Linked DNA regions of Homo sapiens: all the other regions are linked to region 3. The links come from fine-mapping of genetic effects on gene expression. A gene starts in region 3. Each other region holds a variant in brackets. All regions are shown on one strand. Distances are from middle to middle. Region 1 overlaps AKAP3 (A-kinase anchoring protein 3). Region 2 overlaps DYRK4 (dual specificity tyrosine phosphorylation regulated kinase 4). Region 3 holds the start of DYRK4 (dual specificity tyrosine phosphorylation regulated kinase 4). Region 4 overlaps DYRK4 (dual specificity tyrosine phosphorylation regulated kinase 4).

The links. PIP is the estimated chance that this variant, and not a neighbour inherited with it, causes the effect. A credible set is the group of variants that fine-mapping cannot tell apart.
Region 1: its variant is the best candidate, but not a certain one, in a credible set for the expression of DYRK4 in naive CD4 T cells (Schmiedel 2018, PIP 0.71).
Region 2: its variant is the best candidate, but not a certain one, in a credible set for the expression of DYRK4 in T cells (TOPMed, PIP 0.85).
Region 4: its variant is the best candidate, but not a certain one, in a credible set for the expression of DYRK4 in cerebellar hemisphere (GTEx, PIP 0.73).

What each region holds. Positions count from the first base shown.
Region 1 is chr12:4,622,183-4,626,182 of GRCh38, reverse strand. The region is part of intron 5 of AKAP3 (A-kinase anchoring protein 3); the gene reads left to right. Among named protein-coding and RNA genes, the nearest start is that of AKAP3, 25 kb to the left of the region's middle. The variant ACACACACG/G (reference allele first, on the strand shown) is at 1,859.
Region 2 is chr12:4,587,614-4,593,209 of GRCh38, reverse strand. DYRK4 (dual specificity tyrosine phosphorylation regulated kinase 4) reads right to left here. Exons shown (of 15, transcript NM_001394779.1): 3 at 4,193-4,273; 4 at 2,770-2,880; 5 at 1,912-2,050; 6 at 45-208. Among named protein-coding and RNA genes, the nearest start is that of DYRK4, 28 kb to the right of the region's middle. The variant G/A (reference allele first, on the strand shown) is at 2,271.
Region 3 is chr12:4,559,893-4,565,488 of GRCh38, reverse strand. It overlaps DYRK4 (dual specificity tyrosine phosphorylation regulated kinase 4), which reads right to left and starts at 3,281. Exons shown (of 15, transcript NM_001394779.1): 1 at 3,206-3,281. The coding sequence starts at 3,243. RAD51AP1 (RAD51 associated protein 1) reads right to left here. Exons shown (of 9, transcript NM_006479.5): 9 at 5,442-5,596. RefSeq lists a silencer at 3,152-3,446.
Region 4 is chr12:4,606,223-4,611,818 of GRCh38, reverse strand. DYRK4 (dual specificity tyrosine phosphorylation regulated kinase 4) reads right to left here. Exons shown (of 15, transcript NM_001394779.1): 12 at 4,432-4,492; 13 at 1,535-1,664. Among named protein-coding and RNA genes, the nearest start is that of AKAP3, 40 kb to the left of the region's middle. The variant G/A (reference allele first, on the strand shown) is at 2,860.

The DNA.
Region 1 (4,000 bases), 61 kb before region 3:
GAGTTTTGGATAGGACAGCATTGCTCAAAGGATGAGATGAAGCTGGAAAGTAGCCCTGGGATGTGTTAGGGAAGAGGCAGAGTCTGAATTTATGACCTTTTCAAACATGCCATTACTGTCTTAGCTGGTTGTCTAGGTGGCGTTGGGGATTTGAAAGGATTCAGTGGATAACACCCCTCTTCCCCCTACCCTAAGCTCTGAATCAGTTGACAAGTAAGACTAAAGCATAAGGTAGATGGGAAATCAACTTATCACTGTTATTACTGATAAAGGTAAACGTGCCTGATAAGTTCTTGTCCTCCACCCAAGGTGCCCAGTAAGCATCAGAACTGCGCGCCAAAGGGAGGGTTTGAGTCTGGAGAACACGCACACTTACCCCAGATGCTTCACACTGAAGTGCGGGAATTAAAAAGACCATCCCTACAACCTTCTCTTCTCTCTCCTCTCTGCCTTCTCGCTCGCTTGCTCTCTCTCTCTCTCTCTCTCTCTCATTTTCTCTTCCTCAGTGCTTTTGATTGTCTCCTCTTGATTGAGAAAAGTGGACCAACTGCTGTTAATCATTAAGTAGCAAAGGGTGGCACAAGAGGCTAGAATTATTTAGAAAATTTCATCATCATAGGAATCAGAAGATAAGGAAAAACAGGCTTTCTCTGCTTAATTAAGTGGTATTTACATGGTATTAGCAACGCTTGCAACTGGGTCGCTATATTTATCTGATGACTGGGAAAACACACGATTACAGAGCATCCAGATTAGGCTATATCAAGCCTAAACAAGAAACTGTATGGTCTTTGACTTTGGTCTTAAAAAGACTACACGTGCTACTTAAAGTGTAGTCTGTGGACCTACAACATTGGCATCACCTGGGAGCTTTTTAGAAGTGCAGAATCTCACACTTCCCTCCAGACCTACTGAATCAGAATCTTCATCTTAGCAAAATACCCAGGTGAGTTGTGTGCACATTCAAGTTAGGCTAGAAGACAGTGTGAACTTCCAATATTAGATCTATTCCTAAGGGTCGTTGGCAAGCTCTGTCTCCACGCAGGGTTTCCAATCCGTGAAACAGACAACTATTTTACAGTATATAGCAATTAGTAGAGGTGGGGAGTGGGAGGCTATATGCTGAAGAAAATTTAAACTGATGAAAAAAATCTAAAAGTAAGCATAGCTTTCAGGTGTGTAATGTGTGAGAAAGCCTTTTGTAGCCATCTTTGAAATCAAACCCCTCATATATAACATACATAATACATTCTGGCTTTAGACTTTTTTTGTATTGGAATGTGTTGTTTTAGATTATTTTAAATTGAAACATGTATCTAAAATAGGACAATAGACTTGCAGTCCCCCACTTTTATATACACACACACACACACCTTTGTCTACTCTAAAGATAAAGCCAGTCATCTATTTTATTGACTCCCTCTAAGAGTAGAAGGAATGAGAAGCAGCATGTTCAAACTTCAACTAATAAATAGACGCACTGAATATTAGTATATTTTTAAGAACAGGGATGACATAGACACCAAAGAAACTACCTAAAAATGACTTTTTGAAAAGAGATTAATGTATGCAAATATTCTCATACTGATTCAGGTGATTGAACCTGCTGTCACTGGGATGTCTGTGAGCCCGATGTCTTTAAATACATTTGTATTTATTTTTGAATAAATAATATGTGTGCATAGTTCAAAATTCAAAAGTACAAAAGGATGCATGGTGAAAATTAAGGGTTGTTTTCTCATTTGTGTGCTCCATCCCATTGCCTTCCCTGGAGAAAAAAATTGTTTGGATCAATTTCTTATTTATCCTTCCAGCAATACACACACACACACACACACACACACACACACACACACAC[ACACACACG/G]TAAAGTCACAAATTATTATTTTTTATATATATATCCTCTTCTGCAACATATAGAGTTGCCACATTCTTTTTAATGGCTTTATATATTTTATAATATATGAAGCCATTTCATATATCATATATGTTTTATATATGTTTTATATATTTAACCCCTCCCTTATGTATGGATATTTCAGTTGCCACTATTCTGCACTGTAAGCAATGCTACACTGAATATCCTTGAATATACATAATTTTGCACAGATTCAAATGTATTCACATGTGCTATACACCTAGGAAAGGAACTTCAAGGTCACTGAGAATATTATTTGTGTAATTTGATACATGTTTCCAAATTGCCTTCCATAGAGCTTGTACCAATTAACACACCTATTAAAACAGTGTAAGAGGACTATTTCCTCACACTTTAACCAACAGTGCATGCTAAAATTTTTAATTTGCTAAGTTGCTTTACTTTTTGTCTTATTAGGAATAAGGGTGAGTATCTTTGCATATAAGACCATTTGAATTTCCTCTTCTGTGGATTAATTTGTCATAACTTCTGCCCATTTTTCTTTTTTTAACTTATTTTAGGTTCAGGGGTATATGTGCTTGTTTGTTATATAGGTAAACTCATGTCACACGGGTTTGTTGTACAGCTTATTTTGTCACCCAGGTACTAAGCCTAGTACTGACCCAATAGTTATTTTTTTCTGAGTGTCTTCTTCCTCCCACCCTTCACCCTCAAGTGTCTGTTGTTCCCTCTTTGTGTCCATGTGTTCTCATCATTTAACTCCCACTTCTGATAACACGCTGCATTTCATTTTCTGTTCCTGAGTTAATTTGCCAATGGCAATGGCCTCCAACTGCATCCATGTTCCTGCAAAGGAAATGGCTGTGTTCTTTTTTATGACTGCATAATATTCCATGGTGTATATGTACCACATTTTCTTTATCCCATCTGCCATTGATGGGCACTTAGGTTATCTCCATGTCTTTGTTATTGTGAATAGTGTTGCAGTGAACATCCACGTGCATGTGTCTTTATGGTAAAACAATTTATATTCCTTTGGATATACACCCAGTAATGGGATTGCTGGGTTGAACAGTAGTTCTGTTTTTAGCTCTTTGAGGAATTGCCACACTGCTTTTGACAATGGTTGAGCTAATTTACACTCCCACCAACAGTGTATAAGTGTTGCCTTTTCTCCACATCCTTGCCATTACTTTTAATAATAGCCATTCTAACTGGTGTGAGATGGTATCTCATTATGGTTTGGATTTGCGTTTATCTAGTGACCAGTGATATTAAGCTTGTTTTTATATGCTTGTTGGCCACACGTATGTCTTCTTTTGCAAAGAGTCTGTTTGTGTCCTTTGCCCACTTTTTAATGGGGTTGTTTTTTTCTTGCAAATTTGTTTCAGTTCCTTATAGCTGAACATTAGACCTTTGTCAGATGCATAGTTTGCAAATATTTCCTTCCATTATGTAGGTTGTCTGTTTACTCTATTAATAGTTTCTATTGATGTGCAGAAGCTCTTAAATTTAATTAGATCCCATTTGTCAAGCTTTGCTCTTGTTGCAGTTGCTTTTGGTGTATTCATCATGAAATCTTTGCCGGTTCCTATGTCCAGAATGGTATTGTCTAGGTGTTCTTCTAGGGTTTTTACAGTTTTTAATCTTACATTTAACTCTTTAATCCATGTTGAGTTGATTTTTGTATATGGTGTAAGGAAGGGGTCCAGTTTCAATCTTCTGTATATGGCTAGCCAGTTATCCCAGCACCTATTGAATTAGGGAATCCTTCCCCATTGCTTGTTTTTGTCAGCTTTGTCAAAGATCAGATGGTTGTAGCTGTGTGGCCTTATTTTTGGGCTCTCTATTCTGTTCCATTGGTCTGTATGTCTGTTTTTGTACCAGTACCATGCTGTTTTGGTTACTGTGGTCCTGGAGTATAGTTTGAAGTTGAGTAATGTGATGCCTCTAGCTTTGTTCTTTTCACCTAGGAGTGCCTTGGCTGTTGGCAGGCTCTTTTTTGGTTCCATATGAATTTTAAAATAGTTTTTTCTAGTTCTATGAAGAATTTCATTGGTAGTTTAATAGGAATAGCATTGAACATTTAAGTTGCTTTGGGCAATATGACCATTTTAACAA
Region 2 (5,596 bases), 28 kb before region 3:
GTCCCTGGGCCCCTGCAGGTTCCCATGGCCCCCACCCCCATCACCTTCAGATAGAAGCCATGCTCATCATCAAAACTCGTCTTGCTAAATTTCTCAGGAGCCGTGTCGAGCTTCTTGGCTTCAAGACCCAGGAACCACAGCTCCGCGTAGCCCAGGATTTCACTTTGTTCATATGGAGACAGCTGGTTCTTAAAAAGCTTTAGGGCCTCTGTGTGAAAAACACTACAATTGTGAGTTCAGTTGAGGCAGCATGGGATTTGCCCCGGATGCAGACGATGGCATCCCTTCCAGGTCACGAGCCATCAGCCTGTTCCCCAGCTGGGTGGCTCACTGAGGACCCTGCATCTGGCATCTCACAAGATGGAAGTATGACAAGAATAAATGTCAAGGTCTTGTATTTATTTCAACAAATCGAGAAAGGAACACAAGGACAGGGGAACAGAGAGCTCAGTTCCCAAACACCTGGGGGTTAGAGCAGCGCAGGTAAAAATTCCAGGAGTCAAATTAGTGTCGACAATAGTATATAGTTTAGGTGGCAAGTTGCCCAAGTTAACGTGGAATTAAGCTATAATTAGTCCGTCTTGAGAGGCTTTGAGAACTGTAATGTCTGCAGGGCCAGACAGGTAACATAAAGGCAACATTAAAGGCCCAGGAGGCTTCACGCTCAAATCTGCAGCTGGATCAGGAAGGACCTCAGATTGCAAGAAGAGATTATGAGTTAGGACTTCCCTACACCAGCCAGATCACATTGGCGCTCTCGTGCGTGGTCAGGGGTAAAATTCACAGTAACTGATGAACTAGAGCATTCTCAGAGAAAAGAAACTAGGATTAGGATAGGGGGCACCATATTATTTGACAAACTGCTGAAGCACTAGAGAGGGAACTGCAAGGAAAAAGAAAAAGACTTATAGGGAACAAGACTTCTGTTTTCATATATGTGAAGGGCAGTCAAGTATAAGCTGAATAAGGCATGTTCTTTGCCCAGAGGACAGAGCCAAGGCATAAGATAGCAGGGGGGCAGATGGCAGCTCTGTGAAGGCAGAACTAGCTCAGGACTGAAATGACCTCTTCATGCATAGTTCCCGGAGTTGTTTAAGAACAACAAGCACCAATTTCAGTTTCTAAGCTGTGGTAGAAGAGCTGTAAAGTGTCTGATGATGGCACACATAGTGGATGCTCGGTGGATTTGGGCTCTCTTCCTTTGCATCCTAATAGGTTATGAGTCTCTGAATCCCATTAAAAGTCTAGCTACTGGCCAAAAACCCATGTGTAATCTTTCAGGCCTGACCACAAGGCAATCCACAAAGGCTTCACCTGGCAAGCCTCACGGGCAAAGCTGCCCTCCCTGCACCAGAGCTGGTGCACAGCCAATGCATTGCAATCTCTGGAGGAAGCTACAGCCAAGGACTGAGACCCCTGGCTGGCCATGCTCTTCTACATGTCTGCATTTCTAATCAAGATCCCCCTACAGAGGCTCCTCTCCAACACCTCCTTATCAAGAGGAAGGAGCAAGCTTCAGCACCCTTTGCTCTGCTCTCAGTATTCAGTACCTTTCCACTCCTGGCTCTTCCACTCTCTCAGTGCCTTCCCGCTGGCCCCTGGGTCCATAAAATGACAGGAGCCTTGTGTCTGGGCTCCTTAGGCAAATGAGACACTTCCTTCTGTCTGCATTGGTACATCCCGCCCTTGCCCAGAGCCACTCCTTGGGGGAAATTCAGCCTCCTATTCAGCCTCTTGCTTATACTACCACAGTCAGAGGTTCAACGCTTAACTTCTACTTTCCTCTTGGCTGGCTGCCTTCTTTGACTACTCTGACACCTGGCAGCTTAGCTCACTCCAGCGCAGCTTAGCTCTTAACACCCCGACCTTCCATAAGCACCTCCCCACCCTGCTACTGCCCCAAAGGCATACCTGCCGCTGTCAGAGTCACCTTTTGCTTCTTTGGTGACTTCTCCTCTGCCTTGGGATCCTGGGTTTTAATGCTAGGGTGGAAAGGTATTTCTGAAGCCTTGAGCTCTGAGGCCGGCATCTGATTGTGAGCTTGATTCTCCTGTCCAGGAAAAGAGGTTTGCAATAAATAACTACTTAGGACTCTCCTGGGGGCCATAAACCATTTATTTAACCAAAGACACCCACCTTCAGCCAGGCTCTTTACCTACCTCTCCAGGGAGAAAACAGCGATTAAGAGACAGAAGGTTCTCCCTACCTCTCTCCCAAAGGAAGCATCTGTCTGACTGACACTATTCCTGGGGAGACCCCTGTACCTTACC[G/A]TATGCTGCTGACAACCCCAGCAACATCTCACTATGGGAAGAGATGGGAACAGTTTTTCACTGCTGCTCTTAAGAAGGTGAGCTCCCAACAAGACAAAGTGACTTGCCCAGGAGCACATGGACTTATGTGTGTGTGACGCCTCTTTCAGTTGGCACCTTCGCACCTATTATCTTATTTGGTCCCTACACAAAAGAAGTAGGAGGACATGGGAGGAAACTAATATTTTGTATGGTTCCACCTTTTATGTACCAGCACTTCATTTTTCCTCAATGAATCCTCCTGACAGCTCTAGAGAGGGCCCATTTTGTAGCTAAGAAAAGGTCAAGGACTTATTTGCTCAAGCTTATAGTCATTGTAAAGAATGAGAACAGGACTAGAACCCACCTCTTCAGCAGCTACTGTGCTTTTCCCCACTATCCTGGGCCTTTCTAAAACTGGCTTTGGACTAAAACCAGGTCTTTCACCTGCCTTCTCAGGGTCCAGTCCGTCTGCACTCACCTGATACAGCAGGGATGACTTCAGCAGGACTTTCTTGCTAATGTGTGGGAAGCTTACCGTATTCTTCTTCCCCTTGGTGTCCACAAAGGGGAGTGAAGTAACACTGGTGTTCTGTAGAAGGAGAAATTGCATGTGTTACAAAAGCCTTAGGCAAGAAAACGTCTCCAGGGGTCATTTCTTCCAGCCTCCCTTCCCAATTCCCCAACAAGAATGAGCCTAACCCCAATCTGGACCTAAACCTATTCTTAAAGTTCTTGGCAAGAAATGCAGATTCCAGAGCAGCAGAGTCAACAAACACATGGGCTCTGGGTTTGAGTCCCTGCTCTACTACTTACTAGCTGCAGGCTTTCAACAGCTCACACTGACTCTTTCTCGAAACCTCAATTATTTCATCACTACCATGGGAACAAAAATGGGGCCTACCTCATAAGGCTTTTGTGAGGTAAATGAGTCAATATATAGAGAGTATTCTGTAAGTGCTGGCCATTATTATTATTACTCCAATATCTTACCACCCTAACGCAGGGAAGTTCTTCCTGTTATATCACACAAATCTTCCTCAGTGCAACATAAGCTTCAATTTCCTCTATGACTACATTATTGACTTGACCTACTCACTTGGATCCCTGCCTCCTGCACTGACTGATTGACTGATTAATCAGGAGAGAGGTCAGAAGAGCTAAAATTTGGAAACAACCTAAGTGTCCATCAACAGATGAATGAATAAAGAAAATGTGATACTTAAACACAATGGAATACTATTCAGTCATAAAAAAGGATGAGAACCTGTCATTTGCAAGAATATGGATAGAACTAGAGATCATTATGCTAAGTGAAATAAGCCAGGCACAGAAAGAGAAATATCACATGTTCTCACTTATTTATGGGATCTAAAAATCCAAACAATTTAATTAAGGGAGACAGAGATTAAAAGGATGGTTATCAGAGGCTGGGAAGGGTAGTGGTCAGGGGAGAGGTGGGGATGGTTAATGGGTACAAAAACGTACACTGAATAAGACCTCATGTTTGATAGCACAACAGGGTGACTATAATCAATAGTAATTTAATTGTATTTTATTGTATGTAACACAAAGGATAAATGCCTGAGGGGACAAATACCCCATTTTCCATGATGTGATTATTACACATTGCATATCTACATCAAAACATCTCATGTATCCCATAAATATATGTACCTACTATATACCCACAAAAATTAAAATAAAAACATTTTTAAAAATCATGTGGAGGAGATGGGGCGTGGTGATGTGGAGATGGGGTGTGGTGACGTGGATAGAGTGCTGTCATCATGTTATGATACATTTTATGATAAATTGGCCAAAACTGTCTGTTCAAAGCTACCCTGGCCACCCACCTCTCCTCATTCTCTCCTAGAGAAAAGGAGCTGACCATCACTCCCTACCTTATGAAAGACTTGGGTCATTCTGGAGTTCTTGATATTGGAAGGTGGCTTCTGGATCTGAACCGAAAGTTTACTTCCAACCTGGATCAAGTGGAAGAAAATAGGAACAATGCTTGGCATGGCTTTATCCCACACTGTATATTTTTGTTACATTACAATAAACAAACTATGCTTGAGGCCAGCTCTCCTGAATCCTTAGCTGGGAAGAGCCAAGAGAGGCTCCAATAAGTACTCAATGAATGTATGAATGGATGATTATCCAAACAAATGATCTTTCCCAAAGTGTTCATCCTGGATGGGCTTGGCCTATGGTTTTCATGCTTTAAAAAAAATCAATATGGCCTTTTCTTCCAACAAAATCTTAACTAGAGACCCTGCTTACGGTAAGGAGTAACAGCTGAGCTGCTCTTGCTCTTTAGAAAAGAAAATGGCCATTGCCTTGCCTGGAAGTCTTTTCGCCCTGAGTGTGGCTCTGAAGGTGGCATAGTGGAACCCACCCAGTGGAACACAGGCACCCAGCCTGGACACCAGTGCCCTGATCAGAAGAGACTTCACGCCTAGAAGGGTGAGGAGAAGAAGACCAAAATACTAGAGCAGTGTGTCCCAGAGGGCGGCAAGCACCCCGCAGAGGAAGAGGACGTAATGTGTACAGTACGCAGATAAAGAGCTATCTAATGGGTATGGATTTACTGTAATATCCATTTGAAAAACTGTAACAAGCACATTGAACTTGTAACGTTGTGGTTGTTATTATGTAGGATGAGATTAAAATTTAAGTTAAAAAAAAAAGTAAGGCCAGGCATGGTGTCTCACACCTGTAATCCCAGTGCTTTGAGAGGCTGAGGTGGGACGATCACTTGAGGCCAAGATTTCCAGGTTACAGTGAGCTATGATCGTGCCACTGCACTCCAGCCTGAGCAACAGATAGAGACCTTGTCTCTACAAAAAACAATAATAAAACAAAACAGAGTGTGAGGACTATGTAGGCGTAGGCATGGCAAAAACTGTAAAGCTGGCCCTCAAATGACTGAAGTTTAGCAAACAACAGGCTAGAGCTTGAATCGAAGTTCTGGTCTTTGAAGCCAAACCAGGGTTCCTCCTTCTTCCAGACCTCCCCTATGGAGTTGAAGGATGTTTATCCAAAGCTGACACACAGCTGGTATCAGACCCACTTCTGTAAACATTTGGCCACACTGAAATAACAACTGGGTACAACACTTAATATCATCCAGCACAGCTAAGTCCTGCACAGCACAGTAATGATGAGGACTATTTGGGACAGTCAATCTTGACCTCCTGCAATAGGGAGGTAGTCTGAGGGAGAGAGGGTTGCATAGAACATGGGGCATGGTCTCAGACCACGTTAATTCGCTAATGTGCTACATTTAGGATTCCACTATTGAA
Region 3 (5,596 bases):
GCCATGATTTTGAATGAGCCATTTGTCCTCTCTGTGCTATTTCCTCATCTGCAAAATAATGAGACTGGAGACTGGAGCAGGTGACTTCTAAAGTCCCTTTGGGGTCTAAATTTCTTTAATTCTACAAAAATACTGACAGACTGAAAAAAAAATCTCTTGTGACTTATTCCAACTTTGCCATCCCTTGGATAATTCTGTGATTATTAAAGACTATTTTGTGCCTTTCTTTTTTTATGCATGAACTCTGGCTTCCAACAGTACAACTTAACCCTTGCTCAAAGCTTTGCAAATGCTACCTTTTTATCCTCAAAATATGTGGTGAGCTATGTGGAAAAGAATTAAACTGCTTTTTATATTTCGTTTGTATCTTGTTACATGAAGGATTGAAGATAACTAATAAACTCAGCTCAGAGCTAGAGTGAATGTTCCTTTGAGAACTGAAACCAAAAGTTTGGCCATTCTCATTTCATCTTACATGCAGATCGGAGTTCTCCTTCCCCTTCCTCTCTTTCCTCGAGCGTTCAATCGTGTGTTTGCCTAAGAAACCATTTTTTCACTTGGTCAAGAGCTTTAGTGTCATTTAATTATCTTAGGTGCATATATTTTTTGTCTCATATTGATTGTTAGTCTTTTGGAGACATAGATGGTGATCCTGCATTTTTAAAAAATTCCTTTTGGGGTAAGGACAGTGACTTGTCTGTTGAAAACTTGGTACAAATTTGCTGAGGGAAGAGAAATCTAAAATAGATTAATTCATCAAAAAATTCCAGAGCATCAACTGTGTGCCAGCTACTGGGCTAAGCATGGAGGATTCAAAGATAAATAAAACAGAAGCCTTGTTTTCAAGGAGTTCGAAGACTCAAGGTTAAGGCAGATCCACAGAGGTGCCAGCCTTACTGCACTGCATAGTATTTTATATTAATATATACACATCATCTGTGTATAGAGTACTTCAATATCCAGAAAGGAAACAAGTCTTTTGAGATTTACCTGTTATGATTTTAGGATTTCTACTGCAATTGCCAGTAGCTTGATCTTTATGCCCTGGGGGCTGTCTTTGGGGCAGAAAGTATGGCAGTGCAGGGTTTGCAGGGATTCCGTTTGCATTCTGTGAACAGGTGATAATGTTTTTAATGAACTTAAGTTACATTCATTTTTTAATTGATATATAATAGATGTATATTTATATTTATATAATATATAATCAAGTCAGGGCTTCAAATTATTCTCTACTAGCTATTTTGAAATATACAATAGATTATTGTTTACTATTGTCATTCTACTGATTTATTAAACACTAGGTCTTATTTCTTCTATCTAAATGTATTTTAAGTCACACTCATTTCTGCCAGAGAATTCCTTGGACCCTCTGCATATATCCCTGAGACTCTTGAGGGTTCACTGACTCCCAGACTCTAAAGAGCTAGAAGAGGTTTTGGAGACCATGTCATCCATTTTCCCACCCTGGGGAAGAATCCTCTTTCTATGGTATTCCTGGCAATCACTCTGTCTATGCTGGAATATTTCTATGACAGAGTGCACTGTTTTTCTAGGCAACCCATTTCACACTCAACTGTTAATTTACATAGGGTTGGTACTTGATATTTCTTGGAAGAATAAACTATATTGAGCAAAATTTCCTCCACTGATCCTTGCTATCCTCTGCAGAGTACCAAGGAACAAATCTATCTCTTTTCTACTCAAGAGTTCTTGAATGTTCAAAAGTTGAGTAGAAAAAAGCTTTCTCTCCCTTGCATCTCCTCATCTCCAGGCATTCTGTGAAGTTTTTTCAAACCTCTCTTCATGTGATGGCACACCCAGGCCTGACAGAGAGAGCCTGCCTTGTGGTTGTTCCTATTTTCCAGTTCTTTGTGATCTCAAAGTAGCTACAGTTTCTAGAGTCTGGATTATGTTCTACTCATTGCTAAGTCAGGCAGCACGACCATATTCTTTGATGTGGTCATTGCATTTCTATGAATGCAGCCTCCACCAGCATTTGCTCTTTGGGGAGCCATCACAACACACTCACGATGGGCTTAGAGTCAGCTAAAACCACTAAATCCCAGCACTGGGTCCTCCACACGCTTGAGGACTATGCATTCTAGCCAAGTTGCAGGCAACAATATGTGGAGTTGGAGAGGGCAAAGTCAGGGAAGAGTGGCTGGCATATTGCTAGAGAGTCCCTTCCGATTTACCTCTGCTTTCTCCATAAGGACCAAAACAAACAAGAGAAACAACAGATTTAAGTAACAGAAACAATAAGGTAGAGTGCATGTTTGAAGAATTTCTTCGAACTCCTAGGTTTTACATACCGACCACATGTAGGTGATCAAATCGCTCAAGCAAGACAAAGGACATTTTCATTTGTTGTTTCCACGGTTTGAACTTTTCCACTAAATGGCCTCCTGCTTTTGCCGAGTCTCCACTTAAGCCTGGACAGTGAAGCTTGAATTAATATTGGTGATGCTGTCCGTTGCTTAAGACATGTCAGAGGGGTCACGGTTTTCCTAAGCTTTGAGGGGCTGCTGGACATTTCAAATGCAGCAAATGTCACAGAATAGCCTTTAAAAACCCTCAAATTGTGCATTGTTCATCTCTTTTTTAAGGAAAGATTTGCTAATATTGGGAATTTCCTGAGTGGCAGCTCTGGGTGTGTGATCTACACACACCTTCGCGCGCTTTTGTGTCAGGGGCTGGGCCCTGGTTGAGCACAGAGGTGCCCGGGCATATGGGCTGGGTGGGAACATGAGTAATGCCTGCCAGAGCCTCATCCACGCGAGGCGTGTGGTCGTGGACCCACTTACGACTACCAAGAGGACATGCAGTAAAGAAGAGAAAGAAAGGGAGGAAGAAAGTCTGGCGTCCCAGTGAGGGCTGGAAGCACAGTTCCAGGATAGGTCTGCTGAGTTCCTCAGAACCCCTCGCTCCCTGTCCTGCACTCAGCTGGAGTCGCCGATGCGACAGCATCTTAACATGGAAGTATACTGACGTCGGATTCCGGGGATGCAGCTGCTGCAAAAACTACAACTGTATTTTCTTGTCCGCGCACCACAGCCCGCCTCTCTCTGACCCACATTCCCCGGTCAGCTCTTGCATTCTGCACGCTTTTCATTCTCCCCCCACGACCCCGTCGACCAGAAGCTTCGTCGCCTGCCTCGTACTCGCGCCTGACTGCTCGTGAAGTACGAGCCTCCGCGGCCCTTACTTTGTTCCGGTGCGGATAGGCGGCGGGAGGAGCTGCATGAGGCCGGCGCTGACCGCCCGCCGCTGCGGGAGGCTGTGAGAGCCCGGCAGAGGGCAAGGGACGGCCACGCCCTCCTCCCGTCGCTATAGAAACGGCTCCCGCCCTTTTTATGACTCCAGAGCTGGAAGGGCTTTCTCAGGCTGTGGTCCCAAACCACCTTGCAGAGTAGCAGCCTGAAGAACATACTCCTCGTCCTCCTACTCGCATTCTCTTGCCCCAGTTCTTTAAAGTATAGGGCAAGAATTGAACAAAATCCCAGCATAAAGAACTTAAAGTTGGTTGCCCAGACCGGACACATGAAATTATCCCTACTCTCTCCCCTTCTTCAAGCGAAGCATGTGGTTATCAGAATTACATCACAGAAGTTCTGGCCGGGCGCGGTGGTTTTACACCTGCAATCCCAGCACTTTGGGAGGCCTAGGCAGACCACTTGAGGTCTGGAGTTCGAGACCAAACTGCTCAAAGTAGTGAGACCCCCCCGCCCCTGTCTCTATTTAGACATTTTTTTCTGTAATCCCAGCACTTTGAGAGGCCAAGGCGGGTGGATCACGAGGCCAAGAGATCAAGACCATCCTGGCCAACATGGTGAAACCCCGTCTCTACTAAAAATACAAAAATAAGCGGGGCGTGGTGGTGCGTGCCTGTAGTCCCAGCTACTTGGGAGGCTGAGGCAGGAGAATCGCTGGAACCCGGGAGGCGGAGGTTGCAGTGAGCCGAGATCGCGCCACTGCACTCCAGCCTGGCGACAGAACGAGACTGCATCTCAAAAAAAAAAAAAAAAAAGAAAAAAAGAAAAAGAAAAAGAAAAAAAGTAAGTACATAGCAAAAGTTCTGGGTAAAATCCATATATCAGCTGAACACTTTTTGAGTGCTTACTCTGCACCAGATTGTAGAAAGCATGAAAAGGGAAATTTGTAATTGAGTGGCAGTAGGTTGACCTGGAGGTGCACAGTCTGGTCCAGGCAGAAAAGACATTCAAATGAAGCTTTCTGAAAGAGCTGAGTTGAATCTGAGTCTTCAAGGACAGGCAGTAGTTGTCTACGTAAAGGAGGCAAGTCCTATTCTGAAGGCCAGAGCCATAGAAAAGCTTGGTACCATTGTGCCAGCACCCAGTTTAGTGGGGCAGGGATCAAAGTTGCACGTGGGCAGAGACAAGGTTGAAGCAGCAGGAAAGGGGGAGTCAGACACCAAGTAGGCTATGAACTCGACCAGGGTAAGGTGTGTATGTGCAGACTGCAGAGGGGTGTTCATGCTGACTTTATTTTATAAAACCCTCTGTGGCAATAACAATGGAAGTAGGCCCGAGTAGGTTAAGAATCAAGGCAAGGATGCCTGTTAGAAATAGTGAGTGATGATGTTTCAGAGTAAGGGAGAGCACATGGAAGAGTAGTTTTGAGAAATTTAGGAAATGGAGTAAGACTTGGTGACTGGATGTGAAAGTCGAGAGAAGACTCAATCCCAGGATGACACCTTTGGCACCTGCAGTGATGGTGGTGCCATTCATTTACCAACAGAAAACACAGGAGAGATGTCAGGGGTAGGAGGAGACGTTGAATTTAACAACTGATCTGCTACATCAAATTGTCAGTGGACCATCCACAGGTTCTGTTGTCAAGAGCATGGTATAGGGTACAGACCCTGACTTGGCAGTCACTGTCACATAAGTGACCCCTGGAGTTTGCATAGAACATGAAACTGGTAAGACAAGTAGGTAAAGGTGACACAACAGATTAGAAAGCTGCAAAATAATGAAGAGTAGGCATGGAGATGGGAAGAAATGACAAAGAAATGTGTCACATGAGCCAAGGAAATCAAATGTTTTCATCAGAGTATAATGAATAGGGTGTATAAGATTAGGTGAGAAAATTGTACACTGGGTTTGGCAACATAAAGGTATCAGTGCTTTCAGCCAGGCTGGTTTTAACATACTTTGAGGTAATTTTCAAATCCCCTGATAAACTATAAAGAACACGGCAAAAACAGGTTATTGAGCTGGTGCCAGATGATTAATCAATTATATCAGTACCTAATATACAGTAGGCTCTTATGTTTATTGTTGATCTACACCAAATAGAGTACCTCAGTGCTATGTAACTGGAAAATATGTTTTTAAAAAGGGGACAGGTGGGGCAGGTTAGGGGGCTGGTATATGACACTATAAAAATATACGTTAGATAAAAGAAGTGTACAACAGCAATAGACAAATGCTCACTTTAATCACAATTCTAAATTAATTATTTTCACATTAATATAGATATTTCCATAAACCAAGAAAAACTGAGTTATTATACATTTTTTAACAGCTAACATGATTTGAAAATTTTTTATTAAAAATTGATCAGAAGCTAGTTG
Region 4 (5,596 bases), 46 kb before region 3:
CGCTACTAACTAATGATCATATGATATGGTTTTCACCATCTGACCACCTTCTGAAATAAGGATATTTTAGCAGTTGTCTAACTGGTGTCCATCATGGTGGGAATAGCTTCTATAACTGCAGGGAGACAGTATTAACATTCTAGACTCATTAAGGTCCTAAAACAGCTCAAACTCTCATTTCTGTGTCAAATGAATTGCTGTTAAACAACATCTCTCCTTTCCTGGACTTCTGGAGTTCGCCTACAAAGTCTAGACACGGGGCTTTACATTTATGCCTATTGAACTTGGCTCAAAACTTTTAGTCTCAAAGATTTTCTAATTAGCAATATATATATATAAGATAACAGTCCCCATCAGCCTGACTGCCTCTTGCAAGTTATGAGTAATCAGTCCTTTGCACTAAAGAAGAAAATAATGCCTTCCTTGGTGCTGAGCTGTGTTCTGGATGGTTGAGGTTTCTGGATAACCCATCTGTCTCAGCAGTTGGTTTCTGTCATTTGTTAAGGTAGGGGTAAAGATGGGGTACAGGATCCTTCCCTACCTTGATTATTCTGATGAGTGAATAGCATGACCCCCTACGATGGGAATACTTTCATCATTACCTCATGGTTCACCCTCTGAGCTAGTACTGAAATTCCAGAGAGCACAGATGCCAGAAGAGTATTTTGATAACATCACTCCATCCAACTGGAAGAATAAGAGACTGTAATGATATGGTCTTCTAAAAATACTAAATTATAGGACTGATAGAACTGGAAGGGAGCTTAGGAATACCGTATTTTATAGGAAAGAACACTGAGGCCCAGAAAAAAGTGATGACTTGCCAAGTATCACATGGATAATCTACTTGCCACTCTGTGGAGATAGATTTACCTCTTTAATAGTCGTAAAATAATAAGAATAGCTAACGTTTTCTAAACACCTTTTAAACTGGGTGCTGTGCTGGGTACTACGACTTAAGTACAGATCTAATTTCTAAGATTCAAAATATGCATATAGATTATAAAAAGTTGTACATAATAAATGGTTTACAGCTCACCTTCCCCCTAATTCCCTAATATAAGACGATTTGGGTACTAAATCCTAGGGGGAGGGGGACAGGCCCTGAAACCAGTTTACACTGGATGTGTATGCAAATCATTACAACAAGCAGTCAGGGGGTTGGCTTCAGCTCACAGAGCAGAAGACATTTAGGACTGGCAAACAATCTCACTGCCAGGCAGTTTGAGGCCAGGAAGATGACAAACTCTACCATACGCTGTGTATTCCAGGGCAGGTCACTTAATCTCTTTGAACCCCAACCTCCATACGTGCAAAACAGAGCAAATCATCTGCCCTGACAACCACACAGTAGGGAGAGATGTCTGATGAAACAACAGATGTGGAAGCAATTTGTAGACTTTAAAGCTCTATTGTTAGCATTTCTTGTTACTTTTATAACTATCTCCCAGCCTTAGTCTTTCACCAGCAAACGTGTGTCAAAGTACAGCATTTAAGAGGAAACCCAGAAGCAGAGATGTCCCAACAAACTCACACCAAACACCTTCTGAGAAAGTCCAGGAAGCTGGTGTCATAGGTTTTCAGCACCATCGTGAGGTCCTTGGAATCTGGGTATCTTTTTTTCCCCCTGTTGTTGGTTATATTTTTAGGAAAACCTTTGGAATCTGTAGAGATAGAACATTCTGTATTTAGTTTCAGGTGTAAATCTTTAGTGGTCACATGATGCTGCTGCTTAGAGTGGCCTCTGTAGCTCTTTTGCTCTCTGTCTTACACACTCGCCTCATGCCACACCCCAATAAACACACACACACACACTCAGTTTGAAATAACCATGTGTAGATTACCCAAGGAATGCAATTTACTTTAAAAATTGATTTTTTCCTACTATTCAGTATGTTCTGAACTTCCTTCCCACTGCCTCCTCTCCAAATCAAAGAAATAATTTAAATGGCTTAACACCAACCAAGATAAAATAATAATGCTAATGATAATAATGACAATGGTAAAGTAAATGTTAAGTGACAAGGTCCTGTGAAATTGTACAAATATCCATTTCCTTTTGGATCATGGCCTTAGCCCTCCCACTTCATCCTACATTGTCCTTTTTACCAATGACCAAAGAAGAATCAAGCTCACAGTCTTATCAATAACAAAGCTCCTAAAGTCATGATCATGTAATTGTTTTTTCTCACTCTGGCCCTCATCAGTCATTCCCTCCATCCCCTTCTTACTACCTGAGCCACCTGGGCCACCTAAGTATAATATCTTACCAGCCTTGAGACAACACCATTTTGCTGCTAATTAGGGGTATTAACTAGGAGTCGCCCGGGGCAGAGGAGCAGTTGGCAGCCCAAACCTGGGAAAGGAACAGTCAAGAACTGAAGTGGACAACCGTGTTTCCCAAACTTATTTTGTCATAAGAATCACAAGGAGCCGTCATTAAAAACGTCGAATCCTGGGTCCTATCGCAATCTTCCCATAGCATAGCTTATAGAAGAGAATCACAGGAATTCGCTTTTTTGCCAAGTCCCCAAATGATTCTTACATTTGGATAGAGTTTGGAAAACACTGACGAAGATGCAGTTCTCAGCAACATTCCTTCTTTCACAGGAAGTGAAGACATGGATATTGCTGCCAAAACCCCATCACCATCCTAAAGCCTAGTGCTGATGGTAGAAATAAGGAACTCTATGAAGTAGACATGCCTATGTCTTTAGTACGTTCCTACGAAGGTGCTCTGTGTTCCCTTCCTGCTAGTCCCCACCTAGATGCTATCTCATGAGTTCAGAGTTACAGGCTCAAGATATGTCTTCCCACAGTGACTCTGCCTAATCCAAAAGGCTGAATTATTAAGTTGTG[G/A]GTAGAAAAAGTATATTTGGGATCCAAAGACCAGTTCGCGTGCTCCATGTGTAAATTATACTGGGGAGCCAGCCAGATCCTTTGCCTACCGCCAGATTGCTCGGTTAATGTGTGGTCACCATTCTATGGCAACCAGGACACTGCCCTGCTCAGAGGCAAGGTCTCCAAAGCTCCAGCCATGATTACCAGATGATGTTTAAAAGAATTAACCATTGGAATGAATGGCATGGAACCAACTAATCAGAATGGAAGACAGCCCTGGCACTGGAGTAGGATCATAGAGAACTTCTGCTTGCTTGGCCTTCAGCTTTTAGGTTTTTGGATCATGGAGAGTTTAAGGAGTCCTGGGAGAGGGCCAGGGAGCCTGCAGTTGTAGCAGGGCTCAGGGCTGTGGCTTTTTACCAAATGGTACAGAAATAGACAAATTATAACCCCCACATGGCTGAATCAGTTCATACTGACCAGCATGACCCAAACCCTTTTATCCTAAAGGATCTCCCCACGAGAGTGTTTTGGACCTTCCTACTGATGGAGCAAGTTGTGAACAGAAATTGTGTGATTTGCATACATATTCAGAAGCTGCTCGCAGTTGAAAATCAGAGGTGGGAGGGCCAGGAATGTCTGGGATTGTGTGGTCAGAGGGAGTCCATGAACCGACCTGACAACAATGGCTGGTCAGAAATGTCACTCCAGGTAGCATGGAGTCCCTGTCTGTGGAGTTCCCTTTTCCTCCTATTTGGCTTTGCTCCACTTTGCTGACCTTCAGCCCACTCTGGCTGTTTCTATCTGGGACTCTTAGCTTCCTGTGGTTCTTTAAAGGGATTTTAGGTATGAGATTTGCTGCATCTTTTTGGTGCGTGTACGTTGAAAGCCCTGCCTCAGTTGATACCTTGTCGACCCATCCTTCCATCTTGTATAGGACCACTTAAATAGAAAGGCGGAGGATCATAAAAATCCAGAATTCTGGGAATTATGAGGAGAGGGGCAGCCTGGACTGTGGACGAAGTTTACTCCCAACAATCAGACAGATGACACGTACATAACTACCAGCCACAACACATCAAAGCAAAACTAAGTCCTTGCTTAACCATTGGCAATGAACCTGGCACAGTAAGGTCTGGAGGATAAGAAGAATTTTAGCAGGGGAAACAATAATGCAGCAATGGAATTTTCCACTATTCTTGAAATGAAGCTTCTGCTCTTTGATTTCCCTGCACAGTGCATAGTGTGAGAGGGCAAGTTGCTTGGGAGAGTGGGGAGAACTTCCGGGAGAGGATGCAGTTACAATATTTTGAGGTTGCAATATTTGCTGATAGCTCTTCTGAGCAGGGACCTGGCTATTCTCCTCCTCCTGAGCATTTTTACTGTCAAGACCCTGTTCCCACTGTGACTCCCCCATCCCATCTCCAACATGCTATCCGATTCCCCTGCTCATTATCTTTTACTTCTCTGAAAGACGCTCTTAATCACAGCCCTTTGGTATGTGGCCAGGGGAAAAGAATGAAATGAGCCTTAAGGTATGGCAGGTGTCTTCAAGGCCTGTGACACCTCATGAGACACACTAGGACTTACCAAAGAATGTCTGTCTCCTGGAGGCTGTCTGAATGAAGCCGGCTGGCGGCAGACCCAGCACCTTAATAAGGATAATTCAATTGGTTCATTCTTTGTGGGAGCACAGATTCAAAGGCTGAGGGGTGGAGCGTACTTTGGCCAAGCTTTGCCTTCTACAGATAAGGATTCAAAGCATTAAGTAATAACATCTGGTCAGTAGCAGAGCAAACCCAGAGCCTGGGCCTTTTAACTCCTAATCCAGGGCTGGTTTCATATCCTAAGAATCAACACTGGCCATGTTATTCTACACAAACATCAGCACCAACTAGGGGTGGGCCACCACCCTTGATAGCAGCCAGATGTCATTGTCAAAGCAAATAAACTAGTACACATGCTGCCATGTCAGAATTAAAGAATGATATATCCCACCATGGAGCACTGGAAAGGGAGAAGAAAAGATGAAAATCACCGGATGAGCATCAGACAATTATAAGACAAAATACCTTCTTGAAAAGAAAAGTGTAGCACCTACTTGTTCATCTTTTCCTACTGCAACTTAGAGGGGCACACAGAGATAAGGAAATTACAGTGTGGGTCACCTGCCCTTGCTGCTCGGTTCCCACCCATAATCCATCCATTATCCTGCTCTTCTGTTCCTCAGACCCTTTGACACTGAGGTCAAGAGGAAGCTGAGTCAGTTCTGGGGCTGTAGGAAATTTGAAACATAGGCCCCGTTCTCTTTGGTATTGGAAGCAGGAGTGGTCTGGGGATGCTTTATAAAATCATTCATTATCAACCTTAGAAGCCATCTTCTCTGCTCCCCTCATTTTATAGTCCAGAGCTGGGAAATGCCTAGTCAAAAAGACAGAGCCAGGACTAAGACCCCAGGTTTAATGACTCGCAGGCCAGTGTTCATTCCACCACAGCTATTTTTACCTAAGTTATTTTAATATTTTATTATTAGTTTCGATCATGAAATGAAATTATCTATGTTTAGTCATTCTCAAGGCTATATGTGTTTCTCTGTAACTTTGAGACAATCTGGAAAATAGAAATTTGGCAAAGATAGATAGATACAGATACATAGATAGATAGATAGATAGATAGATAGATAGCCAGCCAGCCAGCTAGCTTGGTGTTTGCACACAAAATATCTTTGTTCACTGGGAAAATCCTAAAATGTAAA